3 separate regions of the Homo sapiens genome follow, and all the other regions are reported to be linked to region 3. Evidence: microRNA targets listed by miRTarBase, many of them from high-throughput screens and not tested one by one. Region 3 holds a microRNA gene; each other region holds the end of a gene's coding sequence.

Region 1 (3,046 bases), not on the chromosome of region 3:
TCTGTATGACAATCAGTGGTTTACTGGGTGGGGGTGGGGGCTGGAGAGCAGGGTGGAATTTCAAGAATAAAAGGGGCATGAGGAAACATTGGGGTAATAGGTATGTTCACTATCTTGATTATGGTGATGATTTTACGAGTGTATACATATGTAACACTTCAAACTGTACACTTTAAATAATGTGCATGGTTTGCTTTATGTCAACTATAGCCCTATAAAGCTATTTTATTTTATTTTATTTTTTGAGATGGAGTCTTGCTCTGTTGCCCAGGCTGGAGTACAATGGCGTGATCTCGGCTCACTGTAAGCTCTGCCTCCCGGGTTCACACCATTCTCCTGCCTCAGCCTCCTGAGTAGCTGGGACTATAGGCACCCGCCACCACACCCAGCTAATTTTTTGTATTTTTAGTAGAGATGGGGTTTCACCTTGTTAACCAGGATGGTCTCGATCTCCTGACCTCATGATCCGCCCGCCTTGGCCTCCCAAAGTGCTGGGATTACAGACGTGAGCCACCGCGCCCGGCCTAAAGCTATTTTTTTAAAACACATTTAGAGCTATAGATAAGAATTGATAGTCATCAGCATATGGATGGTGGTAAGCAACATAAGAACATGAGCACAAGGAGGCCAGGCGCAGTAGCTCACACTTGTAATCCCATCACTTTGGGATGCCAAAGCAGGAGCATCCCTTGAGCCCAGGAGCTCGAGACCAGCCTGGGCAATATGGTAAAACACTTTCTCTACAAAATACATTAGCCAGATGTGGTGGTGCATGCCTGTAGTCCACTGAGTGTACTGAGGCTGAGGTGGGAGGATTGCTTGAGCCCAGGTCGAGGTTCAGTGAGCTGTTATCATGCCACTGCACTCCAACCTGGGCAACAGAGCGAGACCCTGTCTCAAAAAAGAAAGAAAAAAAAGGCAAGGAGAATATGTAGTTTTCTCACTTAATAAATATTGAATCCCTCCTATGTATAGATATGCGAGGGACTGGGGATACTAAAATGACTGCAATCTTGGTGCTTAATAATCTAGTGTTGGAATCACGCATATCAACAGGCAGTTATTATAGTGTCATATATGTCTAAATGGGAGAGATTAAAGGGGTTCTGTGAAAGCAGTCAGAAGATTTTGAAAGCTCAGAGTAAGTAATGTCTCAGCCAAAGCCTGAAGAACATATAGGAGGTAACCAGCATGAGATAACCTGTGCTGAGCAGAGTGGGCTTGAAATCAGATCTAGCGGAGTGATTTGGAAAGTACAGCTTCAGGGGTGTTTATTTGCAAAAGCCCCTTCAAACCCTATCTAATTTGTTAATATAATTTTGTACGTATTTTTCCTAAATAAATCCCCTCCCCACTCCCACAACCCCAACAAATTGTGTAAATTTTGGCCCCACAAAACCTGGATTTGTCCTTAAGTAGGTCTTTCTTTTGGGTTACTTAGAATTCAGCTCCTTCTTATGTCTGGGGAATTCCTTGAGTCTTCCCACTGAGCCAGTCTCCCTCTATAAAAGCTGAAAATGCCAAACAACTTAAGCTGAACTTGCACATACTTTAAAATTGGTAACTGGTTAGCAACAACAAATCAAGGAAGGACCTTAGTGTATCCTCTCCAGATGCAGTAGCACATGTGTCAAGATCAAATTCCCAAAGCAGCAGATAGTGTTACAAAGCAGTGTGTCAGTGCTTGGCAACAGTGGCTACAATCTCCTCACCCGACCAGTTATGCAGTATGGTTCCAGGATTTATTCCCAGCCGTGTGGCTCAGACTGATGCTGATTCTCTAGTCCTTTTGGCCATTCTGCAAGCAGCACAATATTCTTCTAATACAATTTATCTTATGCTGAAAACCAGAATCCATCTCTGTTGCTTACGACTAAGAATCCAAACTGATAGACAATTTGGTATTTGGAAGTGGAGTGCTACAAAACAGACCTAGAATGGTGTGTAATTGGCCGGGTGGAAAAGGCAGGATGGAGGGCATTGAGACACAACTGTTTCGGGCTGGGAAACTAGTGACTCTGAGACAGGACACCAAGCTCACACCATCAAGAAATGTACTCTAAAGCTGAGCAGCCTTAGAAAGAGTCTTCTTCCCAGTGCTCATATTAGATGTGGCTGTTGAGGACAAAACACCAGAGAGCCACAGCCACCAGATGAAAAAGCAGCCTACGGATTCCACCAAAGATCTTTTTTTTTTTTAGAGACATTTATTCAGCGTCACAATCAGACTATTACATTTAGCAATCAACAGCATGGGTGCAAAAAAAAAAATCTACATTAAAACACTTTGTTGGAATGCTTTACACTTTCCACAGAACAGAAACTAAAATAACCTGTTATACAATTAGTCACAAATACAGTCCTCGAGTTTTTTGCCCATACACATGAGTATTTGTCTAAAACATGTCTTCTTTGTAGCAGCTAGGCCCTGCCACCACTGTGCTTGGCTGAGTTCACAAATCTGTTGTAACCTGTAGCTTCCCTGTCACTTCTCTGGCTCTCCTCTCCTGCTAAGCTTTGTTTCCTAATTAAAATCTTCTGCCACTGCCATAGCTACTGCTGCTGCTGGAAACGCCATAGCCACCTTGGTTTTGTGGTTTTGCAAAGTATTGGCCTCCACCGCCATAGGGGCCAGAGCTTCTGCCTCCAAAATTTCCTCCCTTCATGGGTCCAAAATTTGAAGACTGATTGTTGTAATTGCCAAAATCATTGTAGCTTCCACCACCTCCAAAATTGCTTCCATCATTACCAAATCCATTATAGCCATCCCCACTGCCACCATATCCACCACCACCACAGCTGCCACCAAAGCCACCACGACCACTGAAGTTTCCTCCACGACCAAAGTTGTCATTCCCACCGAAACCATCTCCACGACCACCACCAAAGTTTCCAGAACCCCTTCGACCTCTTTGGCTGGATGAAGCACTAGCCATCTCTTGCTTTGGCAGGGCTTTTCTAACTTCACAGTTGTGGCCCTTCACAGTATGGTATTTCTGAATGACAATCTTATCCACGGAGTCATGGTCGTCAAAGGTTACAAAGG
Region 2 (3,046 bases), not on the chromosome of region 3:
ACATGTATGGATGGACCAGGACAACTGTTGCCCTCTAACAAGAGTAGGAATCTGTCACTTCTTTGTAGTTTAAACCAGGAGCTTCAGAAAATCCGTGAAACCCCTAAAATTGTACACAAAATTTTGTATGTCTGTGTCTGTTTCCTTTTTCATTGTAAAGAAAGTTCAGGACAGCTTTCATCAGAAGGCTTATATTCCACAAAAGGTTCAGAACCTTTGGTTTAAACTTCTAGAATGATGTAACTTAATAAGTGATTGTACTCATTGTCCAAGCTTCCTTCATACACACACACACACACACACACACACACACACACACACCCCACACACACATCTGCCGCCTGCTCTATCTGTAATGCCATCTCTTCTCGCTTTCTCTCCCCTTCCTGTACAGTTCACCCATCTCAGGAGCCTGGCTGGTTGGAGGGGACTCTGAACGGAAAGACTGGCCTCATCCCTGAGAATTACGTGGAGTTCCTCTAACCGTGGGCCCCAGCAGAACTGCTGAGCTTTACATGGTATCCATGACAACTGCTGATTCCAGTGTCGAGGCCATTTCTCTTTGCCACTGAGAAATGCAGCGTGACTGACTCTGTTGCTACCTGTCAACATGAATGTTTCTGTGAGCTCTGGTGTCACTCATCTCCATGATCATCTCAGCCAACATGCATCAGTACTGCAAGAAAAGAAGTCAATCAGCAGAGGAGAGCATTTGATAACTAAGAGGAAGACTTGCAAAGCCGTTTTCTCATGAGTACCCTGAATAGGGGGCACTCATTTTGTTTCAACGGTCCAAACGCCCAACCTTCAGAAAGAGGAAGTCAGATAGAAATAGTCCCTGAGAGCACACTGTGTAGCTAAGCCTGCTGGGGCTGGGTGAAGAAATTGGCGCTGAGATCCAGGCTGGATCCATTGCTTTTGTTTACAATAGGCACTCTCTCTACCCCACCTCTCAGTACTTGAGACTTAAAGTGCTACAGGCAGCTGGATCTGTTTGCATGCAGGATGAAGAGGGTTAAAACACTGTTTATATAAGATCCAATCTCTCACCATCTCTAAAGCAGCCGTTGGCCTGTCATCAGTGAGATACAATCCAGTCTTCTCATGCACGGGAACACACACACCCTGCGTTTCTCCCTCCCAGGCTAGGAACCTCTCTGCCACCAAGGGCTGCCATCCATCGCCTAGTAACCACGGCAACCCAACCTACTCTAAAACCAAACCAAAAAAATAAAATAACACATCCTCTTTGCATGACACATTTTTTTTCTCCCCTTTTTGGTACACTTTTTTTGAATGGTTTTCTAACAACTTGAAGCACAGGATCAAGGAATTAGGGTGGTCTACTTGAGGCAGATGGGATAGTAGCTGGGAACTGTTCCCTTTCTGATTAATTTCAGCAGCATCGGAATATATTTGGAGCACACCCTAGTAACCTCTTGAGATTAAATTACATAGTCTTAATATTTCTGTTCCTCCATGCAACTGATGTTTGTTTTTTAAAGGGTAAGATGCTGCCTCCCAATGGGTGATGCCATCTGACTGGTTTCCCCATGTCCTCCCATTCACCCATCTCTGCTCCCACCCTTGCCTGCCTCTAACCCACCACTGGCCAGCCCCCTTGCCCTACTCTGGGCTGCTGAACACTGGTGCTGTGGTGGTTTTCAAGGTTAATTCCTAGGCTAACCGTATGGCCTATAGTTTAAAAGCACATCTATGTTCACTGCCACTCTGAAAAAGGGAATTATTTCTCAGTCTTTCAAGGCTTGAGACTAATATAGGCCATTGTGATTCAGGAAGAAACCCAAGGTTGGAGGGTGGGATGAGTACCCTCTGAAAAAGGGAATTTGCTGGTGAAAAGAGGCTGGATCTTGTGGAAGACTGTCTTGGATGGGGAAGTACTACCTGGAGATTTCAAATTCACTTGGCCTGCAAACAACAGAGTTATCCGTATCTTCCACATGTGAATGTCATTGCAAGGGTGACTCTAGACAAACTACAAACCGATGGACCGTCAAGCTCCCCAGGAGCCCCTTGGATGGCAGCGTTGCTTCAGAGTGTTTCCTGTTTCTGGAATTCCTTGTTAGGGAACTTTAAAGAAGAAAAGAAAAACTTGAATTGTGTTGAATTACTGTATCTTTTACTTTTTTTTTTTTGAAAAGATAAACTTGTAAATAGAGTGATTTGAAATACTATATGGCAAAGTTTTATATTTGATATTCTTTAAGTTAGTTGCTCACACACTTAGGCTTTGATTGCTGAAGAAGTATGTTTAAGAGGGAGAGAGGGGAGGCAAAGCTGAAGAGAGTCAAGGTCACTGTCCCCGCTTCGGCCTGAAGGAAAGAGAAGACATTTCTATGGCCTTGCTCTCTGCTGTCCTGTTGGTGGGCACGACACATCAGTGGTGTTCAGTCTTTATGTGTTTTTAAGCATCCCTTGGGCTTTGGATTTGGAGATGGGAAGAGCATCTCCAGGCAATGAGTTTTTCAAAGAATGCCTACTTAGTAGTAAGATGAAGCTCAGGATTTAAATAAGTGGGGTCAGGCATTCGAGTTTTTGTCTTTCTTCTCAGGTGTATTTCTTGGTACCCCCAAGATATCAGGCCAGAAAGAGATGAGTCAGTTGCTGTGCTCTTTACTTCTTTTTCTCCACATCTTCTGAGGCTTTAGAAATGTGGACAAGCTAGTTTTCAAATTTTGTGTGCGTCTGTAAGTTCTTAAAGAACCAGCTTCTTAGAATGTTCAGTTCTCAATGTGCTGCTGCTTTCCCTTCTCCTAAACATTTTAAAACTCTTCCCTTTCACCTCCAATTCCCGTGATCCCAAAAGAAGAGGAAGACTCCAGGAGGGGTATAGATTGTGCCGTCATAGCTTTACAGGTGGTTTTAAAGTTAACAGGGGTTTGTCATGGTGATTCACTACTCAGTTTATCAGCTCAAGGATTATACAGCTCTTTTCCGGGAACTCACCCAGGAGCAAGCGAGACACTACCATTGAATCAGGGAATGAGAATTAAGAATGGACAGGACCAAGACAGAACTCAAGAAA
Region 3 (3,137 bases):
TCTCAGGGTGGGGGGTACTGCATTTTCAGGCAGGGAGGGAAGAAGATTTGCTCAACATTGAGGAGGAAAACTCAGAGACCCTTTCCTAGGGAGCCCCTTTTCCCTCCTACCTCAGGTGCGGACGAAGCCCTGGCCAGGCTCCTTCTGTCTCTCATGCAGCTCCCTTCTGTCTCTCATGCGGCTCCCTCCTGTCTCTCATACGGCTCCCTTCTGTCTCTGGAGAGCGGCTGGGACGGGACTGGGAGCAGATGAGAGGCTAAGGTCCCTATGAGGCCGCAGCTCTTGGGCACCTGGCCGTGCCCTCACTGGACGCTGCCTGCTGTGTCGAGGGGCCATGTGCCCAGGGCTCCTGCCTTGTGTCCCCCTCAGGTGCTGATACCTGTGTTCGCGCTGGGCCGCGCCCAGGAGCTCTGCATCCTCCTGGAGACCTTCTGGTAGGTGCCGCCAGGACGGCTCTTTAAGGAGCCCCTGGCCCGGCCTGAACACAGTCCAGTTGGTGGGCAGCCCTGTCCAGCGTAGCGGTGGCATCTTGGCCCTGCTTGCTGCTGTCCTGGGGGGCCGCTCGTGTGCTGTGTGACCCCAGGAAGCCTGTGACATCCCGTCAGCGCCACCGTGTGCGGCTCTTGTAGGGGTTCCTGGTTCTCCGCTGAGCCCGGCTGCTGCAGGGCTTAATGGGACAAGTGGTCGCGACTGGACTCAACCTGGCCCGTGCGTGGGCTGTGCAGACACGGGTGTTGGGGGTGACCCGGCCGAGTCCTGCCCTGCAGCATTCTCCCCTGTGGCCACTGTGCTGACTGGGCCGGTGGTCCCCAGGGAGCGCATGAACCTGAAGGTGCCCATCTACTTCTCCACGGGGCTGACCGAGAAGGCCAACCACTACTACAAGCTGTTCATCCCCTGGACCAACCAGAAGATCCGCAAGACTTTCGTGCAGAGGAACATGTTTGAGTTCAAGCACATCAAGGCCTTCGACCGGGCTTTTGCTGACAACCCAGGACCGATGGTGAGGCCCGCGGCAGGGCCGGCCAGCACATCCACACCCGTCGGTCTCCTGTCTTCCGCAGGTGTCTGGGCTTGGGCCTGCAGTGGGGGTGGGGGCATCTGCTGCCCTGACCCCCCACCTGGCCCTGTGTGTCCTGTAGGTTGTGTTTGCCACGCCAGGAATGCTGCACGCTGGGCAGTCCCTGCAGATCTTCCGGAAATGGGCCGGAAACGAAAAGAACATGGTGAGGGCATGGTGAGGTGTGGGAATCTGGAAGCTGGAGGCCGACGGGTTGTCCTTCCACCCATGCTGTCTCTGAGCTCTCACTGGCTTGGCCTCGTGCTGGCCAAGGGACGTGGCTGCTGCTGCTGGGGAACGGGGGCGATGTCCGCCTGGAGCTGCTCAGTCTCTGTGACACAGCTTGTCCACCTCGGGCAGAACAGCCCCAGCCCAGCCCTGGACAGTCTTGTGCCAAAACCTGAGCCCTTTGGAGTCTGCAGCTAGGCTTGGTCGGGCGCCGCTGGCAGGTGGAAACAGCTTCCAGGGGTTCAGGCGGGGGCATCCCGGGCAAGGCCTTGAGGTGCCAAGGCTGGAGTTCCCTGGCTGTGAGCTCTGTGCCTGCCCCCAGGTCATCATGCCCGGCTACTGCGTGCAGGGCACCGTCGGCCACAAGATCCTCAGCGGGCAGCGGAAGCTCGAGATGGAGGGGCGGCAGGTGGTGAGTCTCGACCCCGCACTGGGCTGGCAGGGCCGAGGGGCACCTCCTGGTGGTAACCACTGTCCACGCCCCGTGGCCTCTGTAGCTGGAGGTCAAGATGCAGGTGGAGTACATGTCATTCAGCGCACACGCGGACGCCAAGGGCATCATGCAGCTGGTGGGCCAGGCAGAGCCGGAGAGCGTGCTGCTGGTGCATGGCGAGGCCAAGAAGATGGAGTTCCTGAAGCAGAAGATCGAGCAGGAGCTCCGTAGGCAGCCGGGCGGGCGGCGTGGGGCCCACCTCGGGTCAGCACGGGCAGCCTGGGCTGAGGCTCTCTCTTCCCCCGGGGTCCAGGGGTCAACTGCTACATGCCGGCCAATGGCGAGACGGTGACGCTGCCCACAAGCCCCAGCATCCCCGTAGGCATCTCGCTGGGGCTGCTGAAGCGGGAGATGGCGCAGGGTATGCGGGCTGGGCAGGGCAGGGCAGGGTGCTCGGGGCAGGCGGCTGGGAGCGGCCCTCACATTGATGGCTCCTGCCACCTCCTCCGCAGGGCTGCTCCCTGAGGCCAAGAAGCCTCGGCTCCTGCACGGCACCCTGATCATGAAGGACAGCGTGAGTGCCAGGACGGTCTCTGGAGGGGGGAGGGCCGCTGCTGCGCTCACTGACCTGTCCCTGCCCCACAGAACTTCCGGCTGGTGTCCTCAGAGCAAGCCCTCAAAGAGCTGGGTCTGGCTGAGCACCAGCTGCGCTTCACCTGCCGCGTGCACCTGCATGACACACGCAAGGAGCAGGAGACGGCATTGCGCGTCTACAGCCACCTCAAGAGGTGGGCGCCCGGCCCCGCCCCCCCCCCACTCCCTTGGGCCCTGGAGGCCAGGCAGGGTCTCACCGAGCCTCCCCACAGCGTCCTGAAGGACCACTGTGTGCAGCACCTCCCAGACGGCTCTGTGACTGTGGAGTCCGTCCTCCTCCAGGCCGCCGCCCCTTCTGAGGACCCAGGCACCAAGGTGCTGCTGGTCTCCTGGACCTACCAGGTAAGGGGTGACCCCCACCCCACCGCGGTCAACACAGGTATCAACATTCCTCCCTGTCCTGCACCACCCACAATGCTTTTGCCTCTGCCCTAGGACGAGGAGCTGGGGAGCTTCCTCACATCTCTGCTGAAGAAGGGCCTCCCCCAGGCCCCCAGCTGAGGCCGGCAACTCACCCAGCCGCCACCTCTGCCCTCTCCCAGCTGGACAGACCCTGGGCCTGCACTTCAGGACTGTGGGTGCCCTGGGTGAACAGACCCTGCAGGTCCCATCCCTGGGGACAGAGGCCTTGTGTCACCTGCCTGCCCAGGCAGCTGTTTGCAGCTGAAGAAACAAACTGGTCTCCAGGCTGTCTTGCCTTTATTCCTGGTTAGGGCAGGTGGTCCTAGACAGCAGTTTCCAGTAAAAGCTGAACAAAAGACT

Evidence for each region. Region 3 holds the annotated microRNA hsa-miR-6727-3p (UCCUGCCACCUCCUCCGCAG, at 2,214-2,233, shown strand). A microRNA usually pairs through its seed, bases 2 to 8, with sites in the 3' UTR of a target mRNA and lowers its output. Matches are read on the target gene's strand: a 7mer-m8 pairs with bases 2 to 8, a 7mer-A1 pairs with bases 2 to 7 and ends in A, and an 8mer does both.
Region 1: miRTarBase lists HNRNPA1L2 as a target of hsa-miR-6727-3p. Seed matches in the 3' UTR shown: 7mer-m8 at 2,428-2,434.
Region 2: miRTarBase lists ARHGAP26 as a target of hsa-miR-6727-3p. The part of its 3' UTR that is shown has no 7-base or 8-base seed match.

The regions. Positions count from the first base shown.
Region 1 is chr13:52,642,938-52,645,983 of GRCh38, reverse strand. It overlaps HNRNPA1L2 (heterogeneous nuclear ribonucleoprotein A1 like 2), which reads right to left. Exons shown (of 1, transcript NM_001389320.1): 1 at 2,211-3,046. The coding sequence ends at 2,529. Among named protein-coding and RNA genes, the nearest start is that of HNRNPA1L2, 2.0 kb to the right of the region's middle.
Region 2 is chr5:143,221,964-143,225,009 of GRCh38, forward strand. ARHGAP26 (Rho GTPase activating protein 26) reads left to right here. Exons shown (of 23, transcript NM_001135608.3): 23 at 395-3,046. The coding sequence ends at 483. Among named protein-coding and RNA genes, the nearest start is that of ARHGAP26-IT1, 31 kb to the left of the region's middle.
Region 3 is chr1:1,311,598-1,314,734 of GRCh38, reverse strand. It overlaps MIR6727 (microRNA 6727), which reads left to right and starts at 2,169; the gene lies at 2,169-2,233. It overlaps INTS11 (integrator complex subunit 11), which reads left to right. Exons shown (of 17, transcript NM_017871.6): 8 at 370-434; 9 at 814-1,003; 10 at 1,143-1,226; 11 at 1,611-1,700; 12 at 1,786-1,948; 13 at 2,035-2,142; 14 at 2,234-2,295; 15 at 2,367-2,509; 16 at 2,588-2,717; 17 at 2,811-3,135. The coding sequence ends at 2,876. PUSL1 (pseudouridine synthase like 1) reads right to left here. Exons shown (of 8, transcript NM_153339.3): 8 at 3,058-3,137.